Linked DNA regions of Homo sapiens. The protein of the gene in region 4 purifies or fractionates together with the protein of the main gene of each other region. This does not show direct contact. Each region holds a gene or a part of one and is shown on either strand. Other genes may lie near its edges.

Region 1 (8,101 bases), on a different chromosome or scaffold from region 4:
CCGACAGGTACTGGCTGTGGGGCGTGGGTGGGGGTGGATAGGGGTCTGAGTCCGAGTTCAAATCCAGGTAGTACTTGCTGGCCTTCCAGCGGCTGGCGCTGTAGTCGCTGTCACACACGTCGGTGCTGCAGGGCGTCGTCGGGGGCGCCATTCCTCGAATGATGTAGGGCCTGAAAGGGACACACACAGAGGAGTGGGATTCGGTAGGCACATCCGCCCTGGTGGGCACAGCAGCCCCGGGGCTGTGAACGGGAAAGGCCTGTCCACTGGCCAGCTCCAGAAGATGCAGGCCGGACTCTGGACCCACCCCGCTGTGTCGCCAGGGCTCATCACTTACCCTCTCTGAGCCTCAATGGTCCCACCTCTACCATGGGCATGCCCGCACCTGCCCTGCAGCCTGCCAAGCCTGGGCCCTGGCAAGGCTGCCTCTAAGGAGAACGAGGCCTCTAGAGCCTGCTAGCTGACCTTGGCCAGGAACTTACTTGACCTCTTCGAGCTTTAGTTTCTCATTGATAAAAGTGGGGATGAAATAGTACCCATTTCGAAAGTGAAGGATACATGAGATTCTGCCTGGAAGGTGCTAGAAACAGTGTCCGACAAAACAGGAGACTGGACAACTGTTCACCTAACACTGTTACTGTAAATGTTGGCAACCGATAGGGTTTGGCTGTGTCCCCACCCAAATCTCATCTTGAATTGTACTCCCATAATTCCCACGTGCTGTGGGAGGGACCCAGTGGGAGATGATTGAATCATGGGGGTGGTTCCCCCCATACTGTTCTCGTGGTAGTGAATAAATCTCACTAGACTTGATGGTTTTACAAGGGGAAACCCCTTTCGCTTGGTTCTCATGCTGTCTGTTCCCTGAAGCCATGTAAGATGTGACTTGCTCCTCCTTGTCTTCTACCATGATTGTGAGGCCACCCCAGGCAGGTGGAACTGTGAGTCCGTTAAACCTCTTTCCTTTACAATTACCCAGTCTTGGGTATGTCTTTATTAGCAGCGTGAGAACAGGCTAATACAGCAACCAATGGGCCCGGAACACTTCCATCCTGAGTTCAAGCAACCTGACTCGCAAGATGGCTCCTGACCTCCCATCCTCCCAGAGGCTACCTGCACCCAACTGTGGCCCAGAAACGCCGCATCCCACTGTGTGAGTTCAGACTCGGAACTGTGGTGTGTTTAGGAGCCCCCGTCCTGTCACAGAGGGGCCTGCAATGGGTGGGAAGGTGCAGCCAACACCGGGTGTTGAGAAAAGTGCAGCAGGACAGGATACTCCTCTTGGGGCCCAGCTGCTGTGAGGTCAGACGGCGGGCGGGGGGAAGATGTGTCCGCGGTGGGCCCAGAGCAGGACGGGCATGAGCAAAGGCAGGAGGTGGGACGAGGAACTAGCGAGACTGGGCTGCCCAGTGTGGATGTGACCATTCTGGAGACAGTGGTCTGTAAGGCTGTGGGACAGACTGTGACAGTTTGATATAATACTGAGGCATCAGGGAGGTGGCCCGACCCGGAGTGGGGTGGAAATGGAGGCTGCAGTTCCGGCTCCCCAGCCAGGCCTGGGAGTTCGTGGAAATGGCCACTAGGTGGCAGGCGGCACCACACTCGGGAGGCCCTGCTGCTCCAGGGACCCAAGCAATGAGGAATGCGTGGTCCAGAGGTGTCCTGGCCCAGGCCCAGCCTATCCCACCCCTTCACCTGCGGGGGTGGGGCCTGGTGCGGCTGGCGGGTGGGCCACGTTGCCTGACACCACTGGGTTAAAGGTCAGGAGGCTCACCCTGCCCATCCCAGGCTCTGATCCAGCCCCTGCGGAGACCAGCACACCTGGGTCCCACCTCTCCACACTCTCAGTTGCCCCTCCCCAACCAGGGAGGTGGGGCCTGTGACCCCAACATGGGCAGCTCGGGGGGCTGGTGTCCAGCTGAGCAGCCCCGTTGGCTTCCCGGGCTCAAACAGGCCACTGTGGCAAGTGAGCAGCCCGGACCATCCTGGTGACGTCACACGATTAGGGGTCTACGGTGGGTGCTGCAGCAGCCTTCACAGACTTGTCCCATCCTAAGAGGACAGAGCCACCAAGAGGGGGCATCTCAATGGCTAGGTTTCCACAGCCGGACTCAAACACACAGTCAGACTCTGGAGCCCAAGCCCCCGGCCCCTCGACGCCACAGCCATTTCCCAGCTTAAAAGTAACCCCCATAGGAGCAACTTGAAGAGCAGCTCAGAACGTGGAGTTCTGCTGATTTCTGAACCCAACATGCAGTGCCCGCTGAGCTTGTCTGGGGAGGCAGCCTAGTGTGGTTGGCAGAGCAGAGGGAGGCAGGGCTGGGCCCGGCACCTGCCCACTAGCACCCAGAATACCTCCCCTCATCAGTGGCATGGGGATTAGGCCCCTCCACCACGGGCTGGCGGGAACCCAATGGCCATGGAGGGCTGCAGGGGATGTCCTACCTGTACGGTCTCGCAGTGGCCGGAATGTTTGAAGAGTAGAACATGTCCATGTTGTACAGGGAGGGGTCCGTGGCCGGGGAGGGCGGCGGGTTCAGGATCTGAGGAGAGCCAAGCCAGGGTGACTTAGAGCCTCGCCAGCCTGGGCATTCCTTCCTTCCTCCCACACCCCTCGGGCTTTCCTTGCAGAGAGGGCTTCTGGCCCCCCTGCTTCCCAGGACCCCTTCCTCTGGCCAGTTGGCAAAACCTGGGGACAGGAGGGGAGGCAGCAGCCACCTGCCCCGAAGGTCATCTCAGTGAAAGGCAAAGGGAACCCAGGCACTTTTGGCCCAGGTGCCCGCGCCCTTCCAAGTACCTGCCTTGTGACCAGATGCTGGGCTGTGAAGGCGGGGACAGGACTTCGGCCAGTTCCCTTTGTGGCTGGCCCCCAGCAGTAGGAGATGTCCCCACAGGCCCTGAGTGTCCTCCACACCAGTTAGCACCTCACCAGGCTCCTCAGGGACCTTCCCAGGAACTCTCCTTCTGACCTTTCCTCCTGCCCCTCCTCCCTCCATCACACACAGTCTAACTCCTGCAATGACGCCCTTGTTCCGAACACTCAGGGGCTCTGCGTCCCTGCTGAAGCCCTGACACAGAAGTCACCACGCTGAGGGAGGGGCCACAGTCCCACTCCAGACAAAGGCACCCCCTTCACAAGGGCCTGTGCTGGCACCAGCCCCAAAGCGGGGATAGTAAATAGACAAATTCACCACGTGAACGTGCCCCCCAGGTCCAGGCAGCACACAACCAGCCCTACAAAGGGAGGAAGGGACCAGGGGCCCTGGGCCCACACACCCACACAGGTCTGCACCTTCCACAAGTGCCACTGACGGCACCCCAACCCAACATGCAGCTTCCCAAAGGGTGTAGGGCTTATGTGGGTCTCCAAGGCCATCCTGGAAAGCATACAGCCAGATCCGAGCCCCTGCGGAATAATGGGAACAGAACTGTCAGTTATGCCCGAGGGACTCAGTTCTCTCAGGCCCCCTAGGGTGGTACAAGAACACTGCCTTTCACGCCAGACAGACCCGGGTGAAGTCCTGTTTTACCACCTTCTGGCTGCAGCAGGATCCCTGGGGAGGGAATTTACCTCAGCCTCAGTTTCTTCAACTTTAAAATGGGCTTGACCTAGCACTTTGGGAGGCCGAGGCGGGCGGATCACTTGAGGTCAGGAGTTCGAGACCAGCCTGGCCAACATGGTGAAACCTCATCTCTACTAAAAATATGAAAATTAGCCGGGTGTGGTGGCGGGCACCTGTAATCCCAGCTACTTGGGAGGCTGAGGTGGGAGAATCCCTTGAACCCTGGAGGCAGAGGCTGCAGTGGGTTGAGATCGCACCACTGCACTCCAGCCTGGGCAACAGAGTGAGACTCTGTCTCAAAAAATAAATTTAAAATTAAATAAAATAATAAAATAAAGTAATAAAATGGGCTCGAGAAGGCCTGCTTCCTGGGGCTATCCTGATGGCTGGTGAGTAGCCTCTGGGGAGTGGCCAGGCCCTTCCCCTGCCCTTTAGGAAGCCGCACTGGGCCCTGCTCTTTCTGGAGAGGGTCCTCTTTGGCCCAGAGAGCCAGTCTGGGTATTCCTCAGGATTTGACCCCAACGTTGAGAGGGCATGAGACTGGGGGCACTGGGGAAGATGCTTCAAAGCAGAGAGCAGGCAGGGAGGCAGCAGAGAGGGCTTCCTACAGCTGCCCAAGCCCCAGCCTATGGGGTCTGTTTCCACCTCTTCCCATGAACTTGACCAGGCCTGGTTTCTCTCCTACATCCCAAGGCAGTTTGAGATTCTGCCCAAATCTGCACTGGGCAGACTTCTGGCAAGATCCACCAGTGCAGCGCCTCGGCAATGTCTCAGATGTCCCGTGAACCACGGCCAGGCCCTATTCAAAGAGGACTGGATCTCGGCCCAGGGTGGGGGGTGGGGGGTGGGGGCTGGGGAGGCCACTCGGCTCATCTGCTATTCCTGCGTTGTTGTTGTTTTGACTGAGTCTCGCTCTTGTTGCCCAGGCTGGAGTACAATGGCATGATCTCGGCTCACTACAACCTCTGCCTCCCAGGTTCAAGTGATTCTCCAGCCTCAGACTCCCGAGAAGCTGGGATTACAGGCATGCGCCACCACACCCAGCTAATTTTTTTGTATTTTTAGTAGAGATGGGGTTTCACTATGTTGGCCAGGCTGGTCTCGAACTCCTGACCTCAGGTGATCCACCCGCCTTGGTCTCCCAAAGTGCTGGGATGACAGGTGTGAGCCACCATGCCTGGCCTATTCCTGCATTCTTAGAGTTCTCTGTACATCTCACTGTTCAATTTCTGCTATTCCAGTCCCTGGTAATAAGCCTGTAGACGGAACTTTCTCTGTTCAAATTCTCATAGAGTTTCTGCCTCCTGATAGACCCCGACTAATTCACGCCACCCATAAGCCATCAGCCAAGAAACAAGCTGGATGCCCACCTTGCTCATCAAATCTAATTACATCCCAGAAGAATTAAAGATGTGAACGTAAAACGAAAGGAGGAGGACGTTAAGAAAGAGAGTGTGGGCTGGGCATGGTGGCTCACGTCTGTAATCCCAGCACTTTGGGAGGCCGAGGTGGGTGGATCACCTGAGGTCGCGAGTTCGAGACCAGCCTGACCAACATGGAGAAACCCCCGTCTCTACTAAAAGTACAAAATTAGCCAGGCATGGTGGTGCATGCCTATAATCCCAGCTACTCGGGAAGGTAAGGCAGGAGAATCACTCCAACCCGGGAGGCGGAGGTTACAGTGAGCTGAGATTGCGCCACTGCACTCCAGCCTGGGCAACAGGAGCAAAACTCTGTCTCAAAAAAAAAAGAGAGAGAGTGTGAAAATAAGTTGTTTTTTATGATCAGAGCAGGGAAGGCCTTTCTGAACATAACCAAAAAAAAAAAAAATATATATATATATATATATATATATATATATATATATATATGCCATAAAAGAGGAGATTGATAATTTCTTTTCTTTTCTTTTTTTTTTTTTTTTTTGAGACAGAGTCTCGCTCTGTCGCCCAGGCTGGAGTGCAATGGCGCGATCTCGGCTCACTGCAACCTCCGCCTCCCATGTTCAAGCAATTCTCATGCTTCAGACTCCCAAGTAGCTGGGATCACCATACCCGGCTAATTTTTAAATTTTTACTAGAGACGGGGTTTCTCCATGTTGGCCAGGCTGGTCTCAAACTCCCGGCCTCAAGTGATCCGCTCATCTCAGCCTCCTAAAGTGCTGAGATTACAGCTGCAAGCCATCACGCTGGGCCCAAAGGTTCTTAAACACACAAAATGATGCTTACATCATTCATGATAAAATAAATATAAATGAAGATCTTAACATGATACCATTTTTACTCTATATTAGACAGGTGGAGAGAAAGGGTGCCAGGGACCGTTTTGCCAGTGTGGCCCTCTGCTGAGAAAAGATGGACTGTCCCTTTCAGAGGGCCACTTGGCAGGAGTGGTTGAAACAGCCAAGGTTCAACCGCAGCAGGAGAGAGGACCATGATGCCCTCCAGTGGGGGCCCAGCCACGCCTGACAAGGAGTGCTGTTCAGCCACCAAGAATGTGACGGCTGTGTCCTCAAAACAGAACAAACTTCAGGGTGCGGGGGAAGCAGAGTAGAAGGTGGTTGTGAGTTGGATGGCCTGGCCCCACTGCCTACCAACCGAACGACCCAGGCCAGTGGTTCATGCTCAGTTCTTCAGCCTCCTTGTTGCAAAATGAGGAAAACAATAGCACCTCCTCCCGGAGATGGGTTACGGTAGAGCTCTAGGCAGGGTGCACACGGCAGCTGGGAGCCTCCGAAATGCTCAGAACAGCAGCTTTTATACATCGTTAGCAGCAAAAGGCAAGGCTCAATGTTGACTCTTCAGATGCTATCTTTCGGGCTTACGAAAACACATATGTCAGCCCAGGCGCAGTGGCTCATGCCTGTAATCCTACCACTTTGGGAGGCTGAGGCAGGAGGATCACTTTAGCTCAGGAGTTCAAGACTAGCCCAGGAAATTTAGTGAGGCCTCACCTCCACAAAAAATTTAAAAATTAGCCTGGCATGATGGTGCACACCTGCCATCTGAGCTACTTGAGGGGACTGAGGCAGGAGAATCGCTTGAGCCCAGGAGTTTGAGGCTGCAGTGAGCTGTGATTGTGCCACTGCACTCCCACTGGGTGACAGAGGAAGTTTGTCTCAAGAACAAACAAAAAACACTTATGTCAATCTGAATAAGGTGAAAGAATCGTTATCAGTGTCTTGCTTATGATAGGAATGGAAGTCATGCAAGATGGCAGGCAGCACTGGGGGAAACCAGGCAGAGGATAAATGGGTCTGTGCTCTTTCTCACAACTGCACATAAATCTACAATTATCTTCTGGCTTGGAAAACAAAGTCCACGCTCTTGTATGCTTGCATATGTACAGATGACCCCTGGGGGGACATAGAAGAAACACACTGCAGGAGGCCATGCCTCCCAGGGAGTCCTGCTTGGCGTCATGGGGGCGGAGTCTCTTTGGACTGCAGACTCTTCTGTATCTTTTGAATTTTGTACCATGAACATATATTTAAAGGATGCAAAATAACTTTGCTAATTTAAAAACAGCTGGCTTCATGCAGAGTTTCTTTTAGGGGCAGGAAAATGTTCTAAAATTAACTGTGGTGAGGGTTGCACACATCTGTGAATACACTAAAACCCACTGAACTGTACCCTTTTTTAAGTGGGTGAGTCATATGGTTAAACAATAAAGTGATTTAAAAAATTAGCTGGCTGCTCAGTGCCATCTCTTATTGCCTGATTAAGATCCTCCCAGCTCCCAAGGGAGAACAGGAAAAGAGAATTCGTGAGCTGCCTGCTGTGTGCTCGGGGGCCCTGCTTGGGTTCCTAGCACTCCTGGCTGGTTAAGCTGGGTTGCAGCAGCAGGAGCAGGGAAGAAGGGCAGTGGGTGTTTAAACTCTCGGCTTCTGGTTACCAGTTCCCTTTGTCCCTAAACAAAGCCAGGCCCTGGGGCCTCCAGAACACTCAGTTACTGTCCAGGAAACCAAGAAGAACCCTCTTCTGCTACTTCCTTCCCAGGGCCCACCACAGTCAGGTGCCATAAGAAGACAATACCCCAGGCCAGGCACGGTGGCTCACGCCTGTAATCCCAGCACCTGGGGAGGCCGAGGCAGGAGGATCGCTCGAGTCCAGGAGTTGGAGACCAGCCTGGGCAATATAGTGAAACTTCATCTCTACAAAAAATGTAAATATTAGCTGGGCATGGGGATGCATGCGTGCAGTCCTAGCTACTTAGGGGCTGAGATGGGAGGATTGCTTGAGCCTAGAAGGTAGAGGCTGCAGTTAGCCATGATGACACCATTGCACTCCAGCCTGGGTGACAGAGCGAGACCCTGTCTCAGAAAAAAGAAAAGAAAAGAAAAGAAAAAGGCCAGGTGCGGTGGCTCACGCCTGTAATCCCAGCACTTTGGGAGGCCAAGGTGGGCGGATCACCTGAGGTAGGGAGTTCAAGATCAGCCTGACCAACATGGAGAAACCCCATCTCTACTAAAAATACAAAATTAGCTGGGCGTGGTGGCACATGCCTGTAATCCCAGCTACTAGGGAGGCTGAGGCAGG
Region 2 (7,876 bases), on a different chromosome or scaffold from region 4:
CATCCCTTGGGGTTAAGCTGCCACTTGGAAGGGCACTTCCTCAGATTGCTGCTGTGCCTAGCAAGGAAGCAGCAGTTAGAAGTGTTCCCCCGACAGTGTCCCATGTCCTCGGTCCCCACACCTCTGAGTGCTCGAATATGGGCAGATAGATAGACTTTCTGAGGAAAGGGAGAGGAAGAGAGCCCTGTGAATGTGGACAGGGTACAAGAAGAGAAGTCACACTGGAAGGAAGAGAAAAAGGCAGCAGGAGTGTGACATGTACATTTGTGAGATGCAGCAAGGGGCGTGGGACTGCGAGGGACGCAAAGGCATTAAGGGGCCTGGAGGCTGGAGGCCCAGCTTTGCCCCTGCCTGGCTGTGAGTGTGGCCTATTTTCTTGAACTTCTCTAAGCCTCAGTTTCTTTACTTGTAAAATGAGGATGTTAATGGTACCATGAATAGTTAGTGAAAGGTCTAGTAACAGGAATCTTGGGAAAGTGACTTAAATTCTCTGAGCCTCACTTTCTTTATCATCTGCAAAATAAGGTAAAAAATACCCCTGTTACATGCATTGTTGTAAGGATGAATGAAATAATGTATGCAATCACTTAGCATATACCTGGTTCACAGTAAATCATCAGTAAATGCTAGCTGCTGTTGTGGCGACCGTTGGAATGCAATTACATTTTTAAAGATACATGTTGGATTGAAATTGTTTGCATCATTGAATGGTTCAATACATGGAGCAGGTGTCTCACTAGAGGAACAAGAAAGCCATGCAAACTCACCAGGTAGTACCACGTTGGAAATCAGATTGCTTTTATTTATTTATTTGATAGTTAATGATAGGGAGAGGGGTGATAGAACAAATGGGTATTATCTTTTCTTCTTTCCTATAATTAATTAAAATGAAATTATGGACCTGTACAATTTCAATAGATATGGATGGATAGGATAATATTATTAATAATAGTTTTTCCAACTTAAGACCAGTTTTTTCAACTCACTGGTGCCCTAACGTTTCTGATTTTGCTATCAATCGTGAAGAGGAGTTTTTAAATTATATGGTTAAAGAGAGAATGACTTTTGCTGAAGCATCTTATTTTAAACAAAGTAATATTGAGCTTATTGATAAAATAAAGGTCAGCCCAAGAGTGTGTGGGAATAAGGTACATTTTGAAAGAAAAGAGAATGAGGCTTTAAAAAAAGTTGTTTTCTTTCTTTTTGTTACAGCTAAAAATTTCCAATCACCATTCACTTCAAATATACCACCTTGATTTTACTTTTTTTACTTTGCTTTAGGTAATTTTTATATGAATATTCTCAATAAATAATTTTCGTGTAAGCATTTATTATTTTGAGCATTACAGTTTGGACCCCAAAATGGAGTACTGTGAATTTTTTGAGAGATGCTAGAAGAACAGAAGAAACAGTAAACTTTTAAGGCAAGACATCTTTCTCCTCCCACTCTAGCAGCAAGGAGAAGAGGACATTTGCTCTTTAAGAGCCTTTTAAAAGTCACGTGGAAAGGCAAGCACTCCAAGGATTTTTTGATTCCTTTTGGCTTTGGCCAAGAAAATGAAATTATTGAGAACAGCCAGACTTTCATAAGATATTGCTGTTGGAGGGACTTTTTGGTGGGTTAAATATTATAAAATCATTGTTTTCTGGTCAATACAGAGCAGGGAGAAAATAAAAATAATTGTTGGATAGGAGCATTTTGGTGGGTTTTGCACAGACTTGCATCTTGTGTCAGAATGTGACATCAAAGGCTCAGTTTGATGGGGTCACTTTTCTAACGTGACCAGATGATGTGTTAAGGCAAAAGCAAAGTATTTTCTCCCCCTCAGGTTTTTGGAAATAGACCAAACACATAGTTCTCAAAACCACCTTCCTTTAACCCCAACCTTTGATAAAGTGCAGGTCAACTAGCTTGCCCTAATCACTTCTAAACTCATCAGTGGAGTATCTTTCCATGTTTAAGTCTCCTTCTGGCTGCTTCTCTGAATTCTCATTACGGAGCAAGTGTAGGAAGACCCAGGAATGCCGGAATCATCCAGTCACTGCATGGGTTCACTTCATCCATATCTTCTTTTTTTCAGAATACTCTTTATTCCTGTCTTATTTCAAATCCTGGTGTCATCAGGGTGATGAAGGGCACTTCTTAGACACTCGACAACATGGTGGAGGTGAAGATCTGTTGTAAAATCTGAGGGATATCCTTGGTATCCATGGCAACGAAAGACCGACCAGCTGGTAAAGTTCTCTGAAGCCTGCCAGGATGGAAAGGGAAAGGAAGTTACCACTGTAAATGGGGCTCCCTTCCACCTCCTGCCCTGGCAAACCACAGCCCCCTAATGGTTTCTTAGGAAAGGAAGTTTTTACTTTCTAATACCTTGCTCTCTGCCTACCATTGAATTAGTCGTCATTAAACAATGAAAGGCTTGGAAGAGCAACAAGGAAAGACACAGCAAAAGCAGGGAACTGAAAGAAAGGTCTTTTCAGTGAGAAAGTCAGTGAATTTGAAAAGAAAAAATTTTCTTCCTTTCTTTACTGCCATTTCTTGGTATTTCATATTCTTTTGGTATAACAGAGCCATAGGGATTCATATGGAATCAGCTCACCTCCCGGGTCTAGCAAATATGTTGACCTTACACTGTATTTCGAAGTGCTTTTCCTTCCTTAGAAAACAGGCCTCTAAAAACGCTGCGCAGCCAAACCCTGAGTGGTTCTTTCTCTCTTTCTTTGCCTCTCTCTCTTTTTTTTGGTCCACATCACACAATGTGAAATGCGATCTGGATTGTCCAATTACTGCTTCAATGACACTGAGGTTATACAGGCTTATGAAATTTTTTCCAACTCATTTTTAAGTGAATTTTAAAAAACTTATAATGGGTTTTGATTTGAATTATCCTTAAAAATAACATGTCATTGAAGTTACGATACTTTTTTAAATACTAATTTATAATTTGGAACAAAAGGCCATTTTGAAGGCAACAAAACTGTAAGACACAGTTCTCTTCAAAAGAACGCCTCCTTTCACTGTGCCAGTGAAGTCTGGCTTTGGAATGACATTTAATAAAATTCAACCATCCTGTGTAGTATCGTATATTTGGCATGCCTGGTAAGCCAGCTAATTCTGCAACATATCTTTTGCCAGTGGATGTTGGACCATTTCCCTAGGAAACCACAAGGGTATTATTGTGCTTTCTTAAGTATTCAAACAGGATCTGTTCACTAGAAAGACAAAATAGCCATTTCATCTCAACTAGTATTTGTTGAGCTTGTTGTCTGCCTAATACTGGGCTGATGCTGAGGAAAACCTGGGTGGAAAAGGCATAGTTTGTGTTTGAGGATGTGGAGGTTCTAAAAGATGCAAAGTGCTAACTTGTAAAAACTAAGAAGAATGAAAAGTCATGTCATAAAATGACTGTAACTACATGATATTAAGTCTGTTCTCAACCTCGCTCTGCAACCTTACAGCAAGGCAAAGGGAATAGAAAGAGAAAAAGCTGCTAGCATTTTGGATATTAAAACATTTCCAGTCACAGAGTATGAAAAGTAAAAGGGGTGGAATAACAAAAACGTAGGCCCTTTGTGCTTTAGGCAGGGATTTTTTTTTTTTTTTTTAAGATTACTTTCACTGGTGTTTTATGTTTCTTACAGGTATTTTAAACACAGAAAAACCATGAGCTCTTTCTGTTTGTAATTCAAAAAGATAAATGTTATTGTGTTCAAGTTATGAAAGTGTTTCCAGATCTCTCCTTTCAGATCATACCCACTGGTATTTATTGTCTGATCATAAGATTCTCTATTGAATATTTAGTATATTCAGTGTAGTATCTAACTATATGTATATTATCTTATGTTGTCGCCAAGTGTTTCACCTGCCTTGTCTCTCCAGCAATAAGAAGGGATACATGTGAGTGTGTCTATATATATATACAGGCATGCATATATGTAGGTGATGTCTCTATGGGGATATAATACATATGTGTGTATATATATGTCTAATATGTACAGACATTCATACACACACACTATCTCCTATGCTAGGAAAATAGTAGATGTTCACGATTTTTAATATGATTTGAACACAAAATGATTAGCCTGAGCTTAGGAGCTTGACATAAAGTGCCAAATGTATAAAATACTACCCGGTTTATTAGTGACAAATCAATTTGTCAATGATTTATTAGTGGCTTAAATATAAACTAAAAAATAATTAATTTAAAATTATTATTGTTCATCTAAACAAAAGCTAGAACATATCCCCTCAACTAGATTATAAACCCCTTGAGGCTAGTAACTTTAGTTTCTGTTTTTCCTCCATCTGCCTCACTGTCCCTCATGGTGCTAAGCCTATAAAACAGCATGTGTTAGCTACTCAGTATCTCTGTACCTGCCCTTTTCTGTATGCTCAGATGACACTTACCTGGTTGCTTGATCACCTAAAGAGCCAATAAAAATGGCAAAAGCATTTACTTGAGGGTCTCTTGTGAGGATTTGAGCAAACTTAGCAGGATGTATTCCATATCGTGACAGATTTGCATCACTCAAGACTATGACAAAGTACTCATCAGCTTCTTCTTTGACAATTTCCTTGATGGCATGTTCTGTCCCTTCTAACGTGTGGTCCCCACTCATGCAGAACTGAGAGTGGGCATGCATTGTCTGGAGGTAAAAGAAGTTGCACAAAAGCCATGGCTGAGAAACTTCTTTTTTAACAAATACGATTATTTTTCTATTGACCATGAGCATGCATACATACCAATTATTACCCATGAGTAGTACATTCTAAGTTAGTTCTATTTAATTTGCATATTTGAGTGACAACAGTATACAGTGATATTTGTTATCTGGCATAGAATTTCATTAGATATAGGATATCATTCCAAAATTATCACAGTGGGCACTTAGTTTTAAGTGGAAGCTTGCACTTCCACTTAAAGTGAGAAAATATAAGAAAATATAAAACTTGGTATCACATTGGAGGATGCAGATGACACAGGAGGAAAATAAGGAATGAGTTGAGTTTCCAATAAACAAAGGTATAATACTAAAAACATTGTACTCACGTCAATAACGATGGAGGAAAGTGACTTAAAATTGTGATGTGCATTTTTCTGTTGCAGGCTTAAGTGTGTGAAATGAATTACACATAAAATTGGGGACAGGGAGCACTCTAAAAGCGGTCATTCTGCTTACCAATGATATGATTGTATATCTAGAAAACCCTGTCCCTCTCCCGTCTCCCTCTCCCGTCTCCCTCTCCCTCCTCCCTCTCCCTCTCCCGTCTCCCTCTCCCTCTCCCGTCTCCCTCTCCCTCTCCCCGGTCTCCCTCTGATGCCACCAAAGTTGTCAAAGCCGAGGCTGGACTGTACTGCCGCCATCTCGGCTCACTGCAACCTCCCTGCCTGATTCTCCTGCCTCAGCCTGCAGAGTGCCTGGGATTGCAGGTGCCCGCCGCCACACCTGACTGGTTTTTGCATTTTTTGGTGGAGACGGGGTTTCGCCGTGTTGGCCGGGCTGGTCTCCAGCTCCTGACTGCGAGTGATCTACCTGCCTCCGCCTCCCGAGGTGCCGGGATTGCAGACGGAGTCTCGCTCACTCAGTGCTCAACATTGCCCAGGCTGGAGTGCAGTGGCGTGATCTCGGCTCGCTGCAACCTCCACCTCCCAGCCGCCTGCCTTGGCCTCCCAAAGTGCCGAGATTGCAGCCTCTACCCGGCCGCCACCCCGTCTGGGAAGTGAGGAGCGTCTCTGCCTGGCCGCCCATCGTCTGGGATGTGAGGAGCCCCTCCGACTGGCCGCCCAGTCTGGGAAGTGAGGGGCGCCTCTTCCCGGCCGCCATCCTGTCTAGGAAGTGAGGAGTGTCTCTGCCCGGCCGCCCATCGTCTGAGATGTGAGGAGCCCCTCTGACCGGCCGCCCAGTCTGGGATGTGAGGAATGCCTCTGCCCGGTGGCGACCCCGTCTGGGAATTGAGGAGTGTCTCTGCCCGACCACCACCCCATCTGGGAGGTGAGGAGTGTCTCTGATCGGCTGCCCCGTCTGAGCAGTGAGGAGCCCCTCCGCCCGGCAGCTGCCCGTCTGCGAAGTGAGGAGCCCCTCCGCCTGGCAGCCGCCCCGTCCGGGAGGGAGGTGGGGGGTCAGCCCCCGCCCCGCCAGCCGCCCCGTCTGGGAGGGAGGTGGGGGGCGCCTCTGCCCGGCTGCCCCGTCTGGGAAGTGAGGAGCCCCTCTGCCAGGCTGCCACCCCGTCTGGGAGGTGTACCCAACAGCTCATTGAGAATGGGCCATGATGACGATGGCGGCTTTGTCGAATAGAAAAGGGGGAAATGTGGGGAAAAGAGATCAGATTGTTACTGTGTTGGTGTAGAAAGAAGTAGACATGGGAGACTCCATTTTGTTCTGTATTAAGAAAAATTCTTCTGCCTTGGGATGCTGTTAATCTATAACCTTACCCCCAACCCCATGATCTCTGAAACATGTGCTGTGTCCACCCAGGGTTAAATGGATTAAGGGCGGTGCAAGATGTGCTTTGTTAAACAGATGCTTGAAGGCAGCATGCTCCTTAAGAGTCATCACCACTCCCTAATCTCAAGTACCCAGGGACACAAACACTGAGGAAGGCCGCAGGGTCCTCTGTCTAGGAAAACCAGAGACCCTTGTTCACATGTTTATCTGCTGACCTTCCCTCCACTATTGTCCTATGACCCTGCCAAATCCCCCTCTCCGAGAAACACCCAAGAATGATCAATAAATACTAAAAAAAAAAAAAAAAAAAAAAAAGAAACAGGCCGGGCGCGGTGGCTCACGTCTGTGGTCCCAGCACTTTGGGAGGCCGAGGCTGGCAGATCACAAGGTCGGGAGTTCGAGACCGGCCTGGCCGGCATGGTGGAACCCTGTCTCTACTAAAAATACAAAAAATTAGCTGGGTATGGTGACATGCGCCTGTGATCTCAGCTGCTCGGAGGGCTGGGACAGGAGAGTCGCTTGGGTGTGGGAGGCGCAGGTTGTAGTGAGCTGAGAATGTACCACTGCACTCCAGCCTGGGCGACAGAGCAAGACACCGTTTCAAAAAAAAAAAAAAAAAAAGAAACAAGCCAGGCACGGTGGCTGACGCCTGTAGACCCAGCACTTTGAGGTGGGCAGATCACCTGAGATTGGGAGCTCAAGACCAGCCTGGCCAACATAATGAAGCCCCATCTCTACTAAAGATACAAAACAAAACAAAAATTGGCCGGGCATGGTGGTGCGTGCCTGTGGTACCAGCTACTTGGGAGGCTGAGGCAGGAGACTGGCTTGAACCCGGGAGGAGGAGGTCGTAGCGGGCCGAGATTGTGCCACTGCACTCTAGCCTGAGCAACGGAGCAAGACTCCATCTCAAAACAAACAAAGAATAAGACCTAGTGTTAGCTAGCACAACAGGGTGGCTATAGTTTAAAAAAAAAAAAATATATATATATATATATATACCTCTCTCTATATATACGTGTATATATATATACGTATATATAAAATATATACACGTATATATATGTATATATATAAAATATATATACACCTCTATATATACGCATATATATGGTGTGTGTGTGTGTGAGACAGAGTGTTGCTCTGTCGCCCAGGCTGGAGACCTCAGTGGCGTGATCTTGGTTCGCTGCAGCCTCTGCCTCCCGGGTTCGGGCGGTTCTCCTGCCTCAGCCTCCCGGGTGGCTGGGATTGCGGGTGCCCGCCACCATGCCCAGCTAATTTTTTTTTGTATTTTTGGTAGAGATGGGATTTCGCCAGGTTGGCCGGGCTGGTATCGAGCTCCTGGCCTCAGGTGGTCTGCCCGCCTCGGCCTCCCGGGGTGCTGGGATTGCAGGCGTGCGCCACCGTGCCTGGCCGTAAAAAA
Region 3 (8,101 bases), on a different chromosome or scaffold from region 4:
TTTTCTGTCCATTAGATGTGTACAGTGTCTCTCTGAAGAGCCATTTAAAGCCATCCTTGTATGTGAAGTTTCCCCCAAAGGAAAATTGAGACCTAACTCTGTTCTATCTATGTGATCCATAAGACCTGTAGCAAAGTCTAATTCAAAGTTGTTAATTTTAGACTTAACACCAATATCAGGGATATAGGCCACTAATAAAACACTGTGATAAAATATTAATCACTGATTATTTTCACCATAATCTATTTGATTGCCACAAACTTAACTCTACCACTTGGTAAATATTTTTTCCCAAGCTTTGGTTAATTAGTCTTGTTCCCACACAGCCCATAAATCAATTTTAAAATTGTTTGCATGTAACCATCATAATATTTAATATATTCTACCATCTGCCCCAACACCAGTTAACAGCAATAAAAGATATAGATATAGATATAGATATAGATATAGATATAGATATAGATATAGATATAGATATACACATACATGTGGGCTTTGTTTTCCTAACTTAGGACAGCCAGTTCTTCCAGTATAGATCTTACATAATTTTGGTTTGCAGAAATTGCCCCTAGGAAATTCAGAAAGTGGCTTTACCCAAAATGAGGAAAATCACTTACATAAGCTTTTAAGACTAGAAACTGATCAGCAGCCATTTCTCATACCAATACATCTCTCCATCCTAGGATTATGTGGAAGAGAATATATTATCCCTAGAATCATGAAGGTTGAGTAAAATTTCTGTAAAAGGTACCTTTGGCACCCCAGACAACTGTTAAGAAAAAAGAATATCTGTACTCAAATCATTATACTGTCGACTCAAAACCCATTATAAAAGTGGCTTGAAAATGAAAAAGCAAAAAACAAACCTCAATCTTGTCTGTTTTGGCATCTCCCCAGTATATTTTGCCTTCATCATAATCCAAGGCTAAACCATTTGGCCAACCAAGAGAAGTGTTAACCAATACTACACGGTCAGAACCATCCAGAGCTGCTCGCTCAATTTTCGGAATTTCTCCCCAGTCAGTCCAATACATGTACCTAGAGAAGTATACAAAAAATGAGCTAAAAATAGATAATAAAATGTAACTTTCAGATATTCTAAAGGTGAGATCCATCCCTCCTATTACACTGGTATCATCAGTTAATGCCAAGGAAGGGGAAAAAAAAAAAAACATATGAAGAGGTGTTTAAGACATTTATCCCAGCAATATATAAGATTGTGGGAAATTTTCAGATCAGTGTGTTCTAGAGCCAATCCTGAAAATGCCTCCCAATAATGAGATTACAGTTTTACTTCTTTTTTTTTTTTTTTTTTTTAAATATTTTGTGTGCCCTTTTCCATGAACTTTCTCTCTCTTTTCCTTGATGGCTTGTCATCTCTCTGACACAAAAGGCTTATCCCAGCAGTATTAGTCAGATGGCAAACTGAATTCTCAAAATAACTATTTCTTCCTGCAGTGCTAAGTGATTCTTACGGCTCCTGGATGTTTAGATGGCTCTAAGGCATTGGTATATACTGAGGTGTAATTTGTCACTATGCTTGTCCTCAGAATAAATCTCAAAGTAACAAAATTGTTGAGTATGTAAAAAGTTGTACTTCCCTGGACTATGATCAGGGTGGCATGGCAAAACAAAACAAACAACAACAACAAACTAGAAGTAAAGCTGCATGGGCTGGCAAAGTTTTGGAAATCAAGTCATTCATGTATTTAGGGAAAAAAAAGTAAGCTATATTCTTACTATAAAGTACTGAAAATGGAATTAAAGCTTCTAGGGGAAGGGAAAGAGTTCTGAAAACAATTTCTTCCCACATTTTTCATGGTAATGATGCAATCCGAGCAAAATCTGCAGACAACACCCAAAGTCAGCAAACATGGACTTAATTTAGAAAGAAAAAATATCTAAGACATCCAAGGCAAAAAACTAGCAATTTTTAAACTTGAGATTGTATTCTAATCACCATATCCTAAAATAGACAGCCATTAAAGAGCTGTTTACTGGAAACCAATATATATGTCATGTTATCTTAGTCAATGTTTTCAGGAACCTGTGAAAAACAGAAACACCACACAGAATTTACTATCAGTAGAGCTTCTTACCCAACCATGGGATCTAACACAATAGCCCGGGGTTCCTCTAAGTCCTCTGAAATCAAGATCTTCCTCATGGTCCCATTGAGCCTTGTCACTTCTATTCGATCAGTGCCAGTGTCTGTCCAATAAAGATTTCGTGCAACCCAGTCCACAGCAATACCATCAGGATGGGCAATTTGAGCAGTGACCACAAACTGACTGCCAGATCCATCTATAAATGAACGGCGTATGGCCCTCACTTCATCATCAGTCCAGTAGATGTAGCCTTCCACAGGATCGTAATCTATGGCAATGGCATGACGGATGTCTTCTAACTGCAGAACAATGTCTGTAAAATCTGGTGTATCCAAAGAAATGCGTCTCAAGTCTGTCCTTCGAGCTAAAAGCAATAATTCTGTGGCACCTAGAACAACAAAGTGAAATGAAGAATACTTTGAAACCCAGAGGTAAAATTTACCTGCTCTAGATAAAGAATCAAGAACTGAAAAATAAATATAAAATATACATAAATTAACACAAAAGGATGTGCACTCTCTTTAGAGTGGAAATGGAAAGTAATACAGTGAAATAGAAGAGTCTACTCTGAGGTCAAGCTGTTTAATGGCTAACTCTCCAAATTAAGTTGTGATACATTCTATGGTTTCATTGGAATTAATCCAGCTATTTAAAAGTACAATGAATAATGACTATGTAATGACTAAGAAGCTAAGTAGCTCAGTATTAAAGGAGAAGGAAATGTAGGATATAGATCCTTTGTTCAAGAAGCATTTTTTAAAAAAAGATAAAGAAATTTAGGACAAGAATCTTTGTGCTTGATAGGAATGTTCTAAAATTGGATTGTGGTGATAACTGCGTAACTCTGTAAATTTACTAAAAAGTCACCGAATTGTACAATTTAAAAAATGGATGGATTTTATATGCTATGTAAGTTACATCTCAGTAAAACTGTCTTAACAAAGAGAAATACAGGGCAATACCTCACAGAATTGAGGACAAAGCAAGCTATGGAGAAACAAACAGCTGCAATGGAGGGAAGGAACCAGATAAACATAACACAGTGGTTAAGAGTTGTGGATCCAATATAATTTGATTCAAGAAGCTACACAAACTTTGGGAAAATATCTAATCTCGCTAAGCCTAGTTTCCCCATCTATACCTTGTAAGGTTGTTGTAAGGATTAAAGGAGATAAATCTAAAACTCAGGAAAGTACTGAACATTTAAGTACTCAAGAAATATTAACTAATACTTAACAACAGTATTAAAAAATAAAGATTTTCAGATTTTTATTTCACTGAATTTTAAATTAGGTTTATTTATGAACTGTTTAAAGCCCAAGCCCCAAATACTTAACCACATAACCAAGAATGAAGATACTGAGCTCAATCTTTTTTTCATTTTAAATTGTTCAAGTAAACCACCAGCAAAAAATCGTCTAACTATAGGAAGCTAATAAAAGACAGTAAGCAAATTGACAACTGAAAGAATAAGAAAAGATTCCCAGCTAAATAAATGAGTCCAAAACAAAATACTGGCATATAAACTTCAAGAATCAATCTGCAATTACAAGTCAAAAAACTGAGAAGAGGAGTGAAGCCTCTCAATATCAGCCCTTTCACTCTAGAGCTAATTATAAATGAATTCCAACTTGAAGAAAATACAGCCCAAATGCCACTGCAGGAACCAAGTAGGAATAACTTTGTACAATTCACTGCCCCGGCTAACAACCAAAAGGAGCCAGCCTAGAACTTCACAAAGAAGTCATAGAGCTGTTAATTTGAGCAAGGTGATCAAAACAGAACAGTTAACTTAAGGCTACTACATGCCAAATGCACACATGAAATTCAAAACTGGTTAAATATGTACACTTGCACTGCTGTGAGGGAGCAGATAGACCATTATTGCTAAAATAAATCCTCTGTTTTAAAGTCAGGCTACATTTTTAAAGAAAAAAGCAACATTACAAAAACCTTTTGTTTTAAATTGAAACCAAATTGCTGTCTGCCATGGAAACCATTTGACCAAGAGTCAGCCAGCTTCACCTTTTACTATGAGGATAATTTATCAATGCCAAGTCATAACAAACATCCTGTACACAGACTCAATTCCATCTCTCTGACTCCCTGGCCCCCTTGCCAGGGACTCTAACACACTCCAAAACACAGGCTTCTGCTTTTCAGAGTTAGATAAAGAAGCCACAGCTAAATACAACAATTTTCTTACCAGGTCTTGCTGGTTGCTAGAGAACCAGATGGTGATCCATAGGGGTGAGAATGAAGAATAACATTCTCATTAAGAAGAAAAACAGAAGAACTGGTGTTCTTCCAAACTGGAAGTCCCTTAAAATGTCCTAAATCAGTATACTTTCTCCAACGTGCCCTCTCTCTATAGGGAATTAAGAGTAAGGAGAACAGGCAAAGTGTGTTTCTTAAGTATAAAAAGAAGTTGTTTTAAATATGGATTTTTTTTCCCAGCTCTGAAAGCATCTCTCTGTTGTTAAAAAGCAATTTAAAACATCCTTAAATAATTTGTTATAAAATATATCTCATGATATTCTTTGTAGCTAAAAGTTTAATAAACATACTTTCTTTCACAGAGGTTCTTTATTCACAAATGCTACCTGTTAAAAATATATTCCTTATGCGACTACTCATTTCCATAGTTATCAACTGTGATATCAATGACTATGAGATTTGACAGAAAAGATACAACACGTAACTTTTTTCAAAAATATGTTATTTAAAACACTAAAATAATTTATAAAATAGCATTCAAGTGATGCCACAGAACAAAACACTCCTATTCTATAACCATGTGTGAAGACTGTGAAATTAAGTGACTGGTCTCCCAAAGCAGTATAACCTAGAGAGCTGATTATAGAGAAAACAAATCATGAAGAATTCCAATAGTTATAAAATTTTTCATTTTGGATAATATCTTCTTACCATCTTTGCAGGTTTTTCCATTCTCCAGGAGTTTGACCCCAGTGGGGCAAGCACACTGATAAAAAGGCTTGACTGGAGACATCAAACACAAATGGGAACAACCCCCATTGTCAATTCCACATGGATTTGTGGCTGTCAAATATAAATCACATTGATTAATATCAATGATTACTAAGTACACAAAGGTTAACAACCATAACATGAACAACTGTGATAAGCCAAAATTATTACCAAATGTCATGCAGGTGCTTGACTATCAAACCATCTGCAAAGACAGGAATTAATCAGTGTGAATTTACTTAGTATTTTGTAACCAAAGAGGAATACACAAGAAGTAAAGCAGGAGATCCCTGCCCTAAAAGAGGTTACAATTTAGTCAGTTAAACAAAATTAACAAAAAGCAAAACTAAAAACAAACAAACAAACAAACAAAACCAATAAAACTAAGTGCTATTTTGCACATTATAGACAATAAGTACAGAGTCAAATGGGAAAAAAACCGCTGAGGTTTAAAGAATTGAAGAAGAGCTTTGTGGAGTATACAGCACGGGAGCCTTCAAGGATAGGAAGGATAGATAAGAGGACATTTCAAGTATGGTAAAGCTATCTGAATAAAACTTTGGGGGCTATAAACTGGGTAAGATATTAAGGTGAACAGTATAACTGGAGGTTAAGGTTTCTACTGACTAATAGGAACTAAAGCTGAATGAATACAAAGAATGGGAATAGATTAAAGTGAAGGACACTGAAAGCCAAGAAAAGTAATTATGTTGAAAAGTCATGCCTTGGGAAGATTAACATAGAAGGGATAAGCAGAAAAAAGGGGAAAATGAAAATCAGAGAAAACTAATTAGCAAACTTTGGAAATTATGGAAAGGGATATGTCCAAACAATACTCATAGAAAAAAATCAACATAAGATGGAGACCAATGGAACATGAAAGATAAAAGTAACCAACATGAAAGATAACTGCAAATTCTCAAATTAGTAAAACATAAAGGACCAACAATGCCATTTAAAAAGAAAAACAAGAGGCCAGGCACGGTGGCTCGTGACTATAATCCCAGCACTTTGGGAGGCCTAGGTGCGTGGATCACTTGAGCCCAGGAGTTTGAGACCAGCCTGGGTCACCAACATGGTGAGACCCTACCTCTATAAAAAATACTAAAATTAGCCAGGTGTGGTGGCATATGCCTGTAGTCCCAGCTACTAGGGAGGCTGAGGTGGAAAGATCACTTGAGCCTGGAAGTTCGAGGCTGCAGGGAGCCGTGATCACATAAACGCACAACAGAGCAAGACTCTATCTCAAAAAACAAACAAAAAACAGGGAAAATTCTCTTTTGAGGGCTATGAAGAATAAAAAAATTCATACAAGTGACTGAACATTTTCTTTTGTACAGAAGAGTAACACATACACTTAAAAACATTTTTATGGGCTCATGATCATCAGATTCCAACATAACACTTTCAATATTTGATTATCTCCCCCTAAATGGAGAGCTAATATAAAGCAACATATGTTGCAAAATCTCTTCATTTTTGGCTATGTAATAAAATCTGAAATACACTCAGACAGATGCCAGACATTTATTTACACAAAAGTGCCAAACCCTTAACATTCTCGTATTCCTTTTAAACCTAATTCCAGTCCTCTCTTACAAGTTCTCAGCAGTCATAGCCCGAGTCATTGTAAAGGCTGACCAAACACAGAACCAAAACTAAGGAAAACAAGGTGGGAGGGGTACACAGAAAAGTTTAAGTAGGTATTTTATTTAGCAAGCTGAGGTACTTAAATTCAAATATATTCTAGATTAACAGAGTTTTCATTTAAAAAGAAGAGGCGTTTTTGTGTGTGTGTGTGTTTTTTGTTTTTTTTTTTTTTGAGACATAATTTCTTTCTTGTTGCCCAGGCTGAAAGTGCAATGGCGTGATCTTGGCTCACTGCAACCTCTGCCTCCCGGGTTCAAGCGATTCTCCAGCCTCAGCCTCCCAAGTAGCTGGGATTATAAGCACACGCCACCACGCCTGGCTAATATTTTTGTTATTTTAGTAGAGACGGGGTTTCACCATGTTGGCCAGGCTGGTCTCAAACTCCTGACCTCAAGTGATCCACCTGCCTTGGCCTCCCAAAGTGTGGGATTACAGGCATGAGCCACCGCGCCTGGCCCAAGAGTTTGTTTTTTAAACACACTCACATCAACACATTCAACTACATACTGAAAGAAATAATATGAACAAAAAAACTCATTTGTGTATAAGCCTAGCATATAAGCTATCTCAATTTTTAAATTATCTCTCTCTTCTCCACCTCTAAAAGCGCTGACTCAAAAAGGCTGAGGTGGTCTGTAGTGACAGGCTACAAAATGGTCTAGGCTATTGCCTAACCTGAATTATACTTTTACATTTTCCCTTTTTTTTGAGCAAAGTCTCGCTCTGTTGCCCAGGCTGGAGTGCAGTGGCACAATCTCGGCTCACTGCAATCTCCACCTTCCGGGTTCAAGTGACACTCCTGCCTCAGCCTCCCAAGCGGCTGGGACTACAGGTGCACACTACCACACCCCATTAATTTTTGTATTTTTTAGTAGAGACAGGGTTTCACCAGGTTGGCCAGGCTGGTCTCAAACTCCTGACCTCATATGATCTGCCTGCTTCAGTCTCCCAAAGTGCTGGGATTTTAACTTTTTTTTTTTTTTTTTTGAGACACAGTCTTTCTCTGTCTCCCAGGCTGGAGTGCAGTGGCGCAATCTCAGCTCACTGCAACCTCGGCCTCCCGAGTTCAAGTGATTCTCTTGCCTCAGCCTCCCAAGTAGGATTTTAACTCTTTTTTATTCCCGCCAACTATCTTTGGATATGCCCTCCCTCCTCCTGATCCTCACTAAAGCCAGACATTAGAGTGCTACAAAGCTGTTCCAACTTGCAATTTAAAAATCAAGGATCACTTACCATTTGGCTGCCTCTGTTGGCTGAAGGCATGTATATCCATGGGAGAGAAGATGTCAGAATGGATTTCACGCAGACCCTCACCAGTATACTTGTTGCAAGCCAAAATGGAGTGTGTGCTCCAG
Region 4 (8,101 bases):
GAATAAATGAATGAATAAATTTGAATTCAACACATAACAACAGTGAAACCCAGAGATTCACTAGGAATTAGCCACCCAGCCTGGAACTGAATACAGATCTCCTGACTCCCACCTCCAGGGCTCTTTATGGTATTTTAACATCTAACACAGAAGAATGTCCCTTAGATACCAGAATCCAAGGTACCAAATTCTACGCCACATAGGAAAGATGTGTGTCTTTGGCAGGAGCTTGTAAAATTGATTACTCTTAAATTGAAATGAATTAAGTGATGAACAGTATGGGTAAAGGAAGAGCACCAGAGCAGGAATCAAGTCCTACACCCTGGTCCTTGTTATCCAGCCTGTCCCTGGGAGACCCCAGCCAGGCAAGGTAAACCAAATTATGGAATGTCTGACTTGTGCCAGAAACTGTGCTGGGGGGGTGACACACATTTTATCAGTGCCCCACTTTGAGGTAACTATCAGCATCTCAATTTATAAATGGAAAAAAGGAGGCCCTTTTCGATAGAAATGGGATTTGAACCCAGAGCATGAGGTTTTCCACTCCTTTGAGTTCTGCCTCTCCATCTCCTGATAACTGAACTAGGTCAGAGTTTCTTAAGGTATGGTCAGGGTCACCCTAATCAGAATTACCAGCAGTGCTTGTTAAATAAAGTGAATCCCAACACATACTGAGCCCTTAGTATGTGCCCTTAGGCATTTTCAAAGTGTGAAAATTCATTCAATTCTCATAGTCAGTGCCTGATGGAAGTATACTATTATCATCCCCATTTTATAGATGAGGAAGCGGAGGGACTGAAATGCACCTGGTACCTACTCAAGGTCACACAGCTGAGATGAGACAGAATTCAGCTTTGTACAGCCAGTGGGAAAGCTCCTGGGCCTGACTCCAGACACAGAACTAGAAAGTCTAAAGGTGAGGACCAGGACTCTGCATTCTCAAGCTGCCCAGGTCACTGGTACACAGGGAAGTCTCAGAGCCACTGGATTCAGTGCTGTCCTAGAGCCCTTAGGCCCCTAAAATCTGTGATGCTACGGACCAAAGTCTCACCTCTGCCTTCCCTGCACTGTGGATTGTCAGGACCTTTGAGGATAAAATCCAGCTCACCAGGTCCCAGGCCCGTTTGTGGTTGTCTCCGGAGGACTGGAGAAGTTCTTTCAGGTTAGGTAACTTGCTGGCATCTGCAAGCTGAAGCGACGGAAGAACTTCCATTAGCAAGGATCCCGGACACAGTGATAATCAGGGGCCCTCTAGTGGGAAGGCAGGCAACGTTCACTTGTTGCACGTCTCAAGGGATCTCCTGAGAGGAAATTCACAGGTCTACAATCCCCTTTCCAAATAATACTAAACTTTACAAGCTCTAAAATCTGAAAGGTTTTTTTTTTGGTGGGTTTTTGTTTTGTTTTTGAGACAGGGTCTCACTCTGTCGCCCAGGCTGGAGAGCAGTGGCATGATCTTGGCTCACTGCAGCCTCTGCCTCCTAGGTTCAAGCAATTCTCCCACCTCAGCCTCCCGAGTAGCTGGGACTACAAGCGCACGCCACCACGCCTGGCTACTTTTCATATTTTTTGGTAGAGATGGGGTTTCACCATGTTGGCCAGCCTGGTCTCGAGCTCCTGACCTCAAGTGATCCCCCTGCCTCGGCCTTCCAAAGTGCTGGGATTACAGGCGTGAACCACCATGCCCAGCCTTGGTGGTTTGTTTTTTTTTAAACTCTTTGGGTACCAAACCTGACCTGAGCTGATGTGAGGTTTAATCTTTACCTATCCCCTTCCTGTTAGTATCAGTGCATTCTGCTGCAGGAATATTAACATGCCATGAGTATGGCATGCCACCCACTGGAGGTGTGACTGAATACATGATACATGCACATGTGGGTAAAGCGCTACATTACAAAGCCTTTTCCTTTCTGTGTGAGAATTAGTTAACTTCTGTTAAGTTGTTCCCCTGGAGACTGGATAAAGGTAGTATGACAACTACATACGTAATCAGGCAACACTGCTTAAGGTAAAAATGACCCAGCATGGTACACGGCATCTGGCCTGGGAGGAACTGTAAATGGGGAATGCATAACTTTGGGTTTCCCAGAGTGTGACAATGTTTTGTTGGAACACTGGAAGCTTTGTTGATGACATTCTCATGAGTGAGACCAGCCTCTGAGGAAAATGGAGCTTCACTTAGGCCAGAGCAGTTCCTGCACCCACCCCATGTGGATCTCATCTCTTTACTCCCAAGTTTTCACTTTTGGGGGCAAAGACTAGCTCTTGGACCTCTATGTGGACCACTGCAAGGACTTCCACAGAAACACAGTGCCTAATGCTGTGCTGCTGAAAGCTGTCATCAGTCCTAGAGCCTTTGGATTTAGGCTGATGTCCCGTGGGACCTGTGATAGGACTCAGCCTAGTTGTCATTGCAGCACATTATTTACCATTCTAAAATCAGGAAGAATCGGAATCCTGAAACATATTCAGTGCCAGGATTTCTGATAAGGGACTGGGGACTTGGACTAACAGATAGCAACAAAGTATCTGTAGCTTTTGCTCAGAAGTTATGACTGACTAGAGGTCAAACCTCTCCAGCATGGCATTTAAACACCTCTAGCCTAATCTCAACCCCTTACCATCCCCTCCCCATCACAGACTGGTTCTATTCAGGAGCATGTCTTGTTCCAAGAATACCCCTTCCCCCACCTCTACTACCCAGGCACTTCTGATCCAAGAGACCACTCTCTCCTCTAAGCCCCTAAAGCCCATTGCCCCAGTTCTCCCTTCCAAGTATGGCCAGACACCTGGAGGTCAAGAACTGTCTTGTGTTTTTCCAATTCTCCTCTTTCCTGGATGCAGAGAAACAGCATGAACTGTGGAATCAGATCTCAGTTGGAATCTCTGTTGAGCTTCTATCTCCTCTCCAACAAGGGCACCTCTCTACCTCGCCAAGGGGTTGTCAGGAAGTTTGAAGAAGGTCACAGAATCTCAGGGCTTGGTCTATATATGTCCATTTCTTTTCTTTCCATTTACATTTCTCCCCAGACAACACTGTCCTCCCAAACCCTGGCAACCTTTCCTTCTGCTTTGCAAGGGATGTAGTTGGCACTTCAAGAATACCTGTGTGGTGGCCCGGTGTGGTGGTTCACACCTGTAATCCCAGCACTTTGGGAGGCTGAGGGGGGCGGGTCACGAGGTCAAGAGATTGAGACCATCCTGACCAACATGGTGAAACCCCATCTCTACTGAAAATACAAAAATTAGTTGGGTGTGGTGGCATGTGCCTGTAGTCCCAGCTACTCGGGAGGCCAAGGTAAAAGAATCACTTGAACCCAGGAGGCGGAGGTTGCAGTGAGCCAAGATGGCGCCACTGCACTCTAGCCTGGTGACAGAGAGAGACTCTGTCTCAAAAAAAAAAAAAAAAAAGAATACCTGTGGTTCTTTTCCATTTTTCTAGAAAATTGACTATTACTGACTTTGGGAGTTTTTCTTAGCTCTGTAGTTGAAAATTAGAAACAGAGCCAGGTGTGGGGGCTCATGCCTATAATCCTAGCTACTCAGGAGGCTGGGGTGGATTTCTTAAGGCCAGGAGTTAGAGACCAGCTAGGGAAACACAGTGAGATGGCTCTAAAAATAAATAAATGAAATTAAAAACATCTTAGGGCCACTTTATTTCTATTTCCAGAGATTCAATCAATAGCCTCATATATTGTAATAAAACTATCTCAGGTTGGGTGCAGTGGCTCATGCCTGTAATCCCAGCACTTTGGGAGGCTGGGGTGGGCGGATCACCTGAGGTCGGGAGTTTGAACCAGCCTGACCAGCATGAGAAACCCCATCTCTACTAAAGATACAAAATTAGCCGGGCGTAGTGGCACATGCCTGTAATTCCAGCTACTCGGGAGGCTGAGGCAGGAAAGTCGCTTGAACCCAGGAGGTGGAGGTTGCAGTGAGCCAAGATCATGCCATTGCACTCCAGCCTGGGCAACAATAGCAAAACTCTGTTTCAAAAAAAAAAAAAACAAAAAACACCAACTATCTCTACAGGCCTCATGAGGTATCAGTGAAAATCTAATATTTATTAAAAGAAAAAATTTTTTTGGAGACAGGGTCACGCTCTGTTGCCCAGGCTGGAGTGCAGTGGCACAAACACAGCTCACTGCAGGATCCATCCCACCCCCACCCGAAGTGATTCTCCTGCATAGCTGGGACTATAGGCACATGCCGCCATGCCCAGCTAATTTTTTTTATTTTTAGTAGAGATGAGGTCTTGCTATGCTGCCCAGGCTGGTCTCAAACTCATGAACTCAAGTGATCCTCCTGCCTCAGCCTCCCAAAGTGCTGTGATTACAGGCATGAGCCACCAAGCCCAGCATACTTTTTTTTTTTTTTTTGAAAGTGGATGTGTGAGCCCGGGCATGGTGACTTATGCCTGTAATCCCAGCACTTTGGGAAGCTGAGGTGGGCGGAGCTCTTCAGTTCAGGTGCTCAACACCAGCAGGGGCAACATGGCGAAACCGCATCTCCACAAAACAAAACAAACAAACAACAAAAAAAAATTATCCAGGCGTGGTGGTGTACACCTGTAGTCCCGGCTACTTGGGCTGAGGTGGGAGGATCGCTAGAGCCTGGGAGGTAGAAGATGCAGTGAGCCATGATTGTTCTACTGCACTCCAGCCTGGGTGACAGAGTGAAACCCTGTCTCGAATAAAAAAAAAAAAAAGGATGTGTGGAGTGCAAATGCTCCATGAGTATTGGTGCTATTTCTATGCCTTGCTTACTGTTCCACGCCACCTGCTTCACCCCCAGGCTGCATGGCCTTGCATTATTCAGGGGGCATTTACTAAGCATCTACTTTGTGCCAGGCCCTGTGCTTATAGGAGGAGGCATTAGATTTAAAATGGGCCCCTTAATCAAGTGGGGAGGCAGAAAGGTAAATAATAATGACTTAAAAGTATTCATTGTCGCCAGGCGTGGTGGCTCACGCTTGTAATCCCAGCACTTTGGGAGGCCGAGGCAGGCGGATCACCTGAGCTCAGGAGTTCAAGATCAGCCTGGCCAACATGGCAAAACACCATCTCTACTAAAAATATAAAAGTTAGATGGGCGTGGTGGCAGGCACCTGAATCCCAGCTACTCTGGAGACTGAGGCAGGAGAATCCCTTGAACTCCAGAGGCAGAGGTTGCAGTGAGCCAGTGAGCCATCACTGCACTCCAGCCTGGGTGACACAGCGAGACCCTGTCTCAAAAAAAAAAAAGCAGCATTCACTGTCGTAACAAAGTTGGATACAAACTACTAAGAGGACAAGGTGGGACTCCTGTTGCGTAGGGGCTAAAGGAAAAGGGGGTGGGGTTGGGACCAGCTTCACAGAGGAGGTACTGTATGATCTGGGTTTGCTATATGAAACCACAGAAGTATAAAAGCGCAGCATGTAGCTGGGGAAGTGGGTGGTGGCATGGTTAATTGTGCAGTTCTCCCAGGCATCTGGGGCTCTATTCCTCTACTAGCTGTGTGACCTTTAGTGAGATGTTTGACTTCCTGTGTCTCAGCTTTCTCAAATACATAATTGGGATAATATCAGTAGCTACTTCATAGGGTCCCGGTGGAGATTAATCAAGTTAAACAAGTGCTCAAACCAACAGGAAAGTATTAAGTACTCTAATGTTAGTGTGACTGCCATGACTGTCATCATTAACAACAGGTAATTCTGTGTGGCTGGAACCTAGAGTGTGGGGAAGTGGCTGCCAAGAGGAAGAGTGGGAAGGTGACCTCAAGTGAGGTCATCTCAAATGATCCTGTGAAGGACCCTGTACTCCACTTGGGAACCCCAAGCTTTGTTCTGTAGGTTATACAGAGTCACTGAAGACATATCCCAAATGGTGTACCCTCAGGTAGCTTACCCATACAGGACTGCTGCCTGCACAGTCCAAAGGGCACTCATCCCCCTTCCTTCTTTTCTATTCCTTGTTATCTCAGAGCCAGAGCTGAGTCATCTTCTCTCCAAAGATTACTACTATTCCCATCACTCGTGTCCTCAAATCCCACCTGTGAGTCACAGCCCTTGTCAACAGTCCATATCTAGGCCCAGAGAGCCCCACAAAAGGACAGTCAGCTAGCCAGGTGCCTTTCAGGGACTCAGTCTGGACAAAGGGGAGAGATGCCTCCTAGCTCCAAGCTGGACCCAGGCCTCTTCCCGGCCCTCCTACTGCATCTGCCCAGACAGGGTCCCTGCTGCATCCTGCCCTCCTTGCTCCCCACCATCTGTCCACACTCTTTAATTCCTCAACTGACCTTCTTTATGTCCCATTTCACTTTGCGTGTTACTCTGAAAAATAAATCTGCTTCAACAATTTAATAGGATTCTTCCTCTTGTGACTAAAACCTGTCTGCATTTTAGCAGGGCCTTTTGGGAACCAGGCACACAAGTAGGGTTGCCATTTAAAATACGCTCTGCCCGGTTAAATTTGAATTTCAGATAAACAACAACAACAACAAAAGACCCATTTTGTTTTTTTTAAAGACGGGATGGGGTCTCACTCTGTCACCCAGGCTGGAGTGCAGTGGCAAGATCACAGCTCACAGCAGCCTTGACCTTCCAGGCTCAAGCAATCCTCCCACCTCAGCCTCCAGAGTAGCTGGGACTAAAGGTATGTGACATCATGCCCAGCTAATTTTTTGTACAGACAGGGTTCCACCATGTTGTCCAGGCTGGTCTCAAAACTCCCGGGCTCATGCAATCCACCAGCCTCAGCCTCACAAAGTGCTGGGATTACAGGCATGAGCCCCTGTGTTCAGCCAACAAATTTTTTTTAGTATAAATAACCCATGCAATATTTGGGACATATTCATACTTAAAATCCCAGCACTTTGGGAGGTTGAGGTGGGTGGATCACCTAAGGTTAGGACTTTGAGACCAGCCTGGTCAACATGGTGAAACCCTGTCTTTACTAAAAATACAAAAAATTAGCCAGGCATGGTGGCGGACACCTTTAGTCCCAGCTACTTGGGAGGCTGAGGCAGGAGAATCGCTTGAACCGGGGATGTGGATGTCGCAGTGAACCGAGATCACGCCACTGCACTCCAACCTGGGCAACAAGAGTCAAACTTCATCTAAAAAAAAAAAAAAAATTATTGGTTGCTCATCTTAAATTCAAATTTAACTAGGTGGCCTATATTTTTATTTGCTAAATCTAATAATCTTACCCTTAATAAGGCACTTAGGAATCCAGTCTGGCCTCTTTGCTTAACAGTACCTCCTGCCACTAACTCCCTCCCCACCCCCAATGCTATTCCTCATGTGACCTATGGTTTTCTTCCTCTGTGCTTCTGTGGCTGCCTACCATGACATCCCACTGAGTCTTCAAGGTCAGCAGTCACCTCCCACGTGAAGCCTTCCCTGACCACCTACAACCTCTGTACTCAATAATTGTATTCTATTGTGTTCAGCAATACAGCAGAGCCCCATGTTGGTACCTGACCCTCTGGGGCCAACTCATATCTGGTTGGGACAAACACTCCCTGAGGCCAACCACATCTTACTTACCCTGGATCCCCATGCCAGCCTGGAACCTGGCATGAAGTTAAGAACAAAAGAGTAATAGCTACTATTAATTTGAACCCTTACAGGTGCCAGCCACCAGAATAAATGCTTTGCATGAATTTATTGTTATCTCATGTTATTCTCATAACCTGTTTTGAAGATGAGGAAACTGAGGCTTGGAGATGCTCAGCACCTTGCCTAGGGGCACACAGCTATTCAGTGGCAGGGTGGGGATATGAAGCCAGGTGGCCCGACTCCAGAGTCTATTCTCCTGCCATACACTCCTACCAAATGAATGGAGAAATTTAGTGGTGGACTGAATATTTTAGCCCAAAGGAACAATTCTGGCAGAATTTTTAAGAGACTGCTTTGGGAAGCTAATCAGGTATGATATTGGAATTCCCCCCAATCCCAAAATAATACAACTGAGACAGCTACTGGCTGTGCCTAAGCCAAAGGTAGGGAGAAAGATGTATGTAATATGCAGTATAGGGGTATGTGGAAGAAATCACCATCTAGGCAAGCATTCTGAATCACACATCAGTACATGGCAGTGGAAGGCATTTGCCAACTGG

The links.
Region 1: the proteins of PARP16 (region 4) and LRP5 purify together in Homo sapiens (affinity purification with mass spectrometry; 3 studies listed by BioGRID and IntAct, with this or other methods). This does not show direct contact.
Region 2: the proteins of PARP16 (region 4) and VWA8 purify together in Homo sapiens (affinity purification with mass spectrometry; 3 studies listed by BioGRID and IntAct, with this or other methods). This does not show direct contact.
Region 3: the proteins of PARP16 (region 4) and LRP6 purify together in Homo sapiens (affinity purification with mass spectrometry; 3 studies listed by BioGRID and IntAct, with this or other methods). This does not show direct contact.

Annotation. Positions count from the first base shown.
Region 1 is NC_000011.10:68,440,878-68,448,978, reverse strand, and holds part of LRP5 (low-density lipoprotein receptor-related protein 5 isoform 1 precursor), read right to left. Parts: intron 3,407-8,101; coding exon of another isoform or gene 3,277-3,406; intron 2,544-3,276; coding exon 2,446-2,543; intron 2,053-2,445; coding exon of another isoform or gene 1,995-2,052; exon of another isoform or gene 1,822-1,994; intron 171-1,821; coding exon 1-170. UniProt on the Homo sapiens protein: Acts as a coreceptor with members of the frizzled family of seven-transmembrane spanning receptors to transduce signal by Wnt proteins.
Region 2 is NC_000013.11:41,566,054-41,573,929, forward strand, and holds the end of VWA8 (von Willebrand factor A domain-containing protein 8 isoform a precursor), read right to left. Parts: intron 4,654-7,876; coding exon 4,415-4,653; intron 2,343-4,414; exon of another isoform or gene 2,253-2,342; coding exon 2,144-2,252; 3' UTR 782-2,143; downstream 1-781. UniProt on the Homo sapiens protein: Exhibits ATPase activity in vitro.
Region 3 is NC_000012.12:12,178,944-12,187,044, forward strand, and holds part of LRP6 (low-density lipoprotein receptor-related protein 6 isoform b precursor), read right to left. Parts: coding exon 7,980-8,101; intron 5,169-7,979; coding exon 5,037-5,168; intron 2,497-5,036; coding exon 2,100-2,496; intron 1,039-2,099; coding exon 867-1,038; intron 1-866. UniProt on the Homo sapiens protein: Component of the Wnt-Fzd-LRP5-LRP6 complex that triggers beta-catenin signaling through inducing aggregation of receptor-ligand complexes into ribosome-sized signalosomes.
Region 4 is NC_000015.10:65,269,884-65,277,984, forward strand, and holds part of PARP16 (protein mono-ADP-ribosyltransferase PARP16), read right to left. Parts: intron 1,190-8,101; coding exon 1,052-1,189; intron 1-1,051. UniProt on the Homo sapiens protein: Intracellular mono-ADP-ribosyltransferase that plays a role in different processes, such as protein translation and unfolded protein response (UPR), through the mono-ADP-ribosylation of proteins involved in those processes.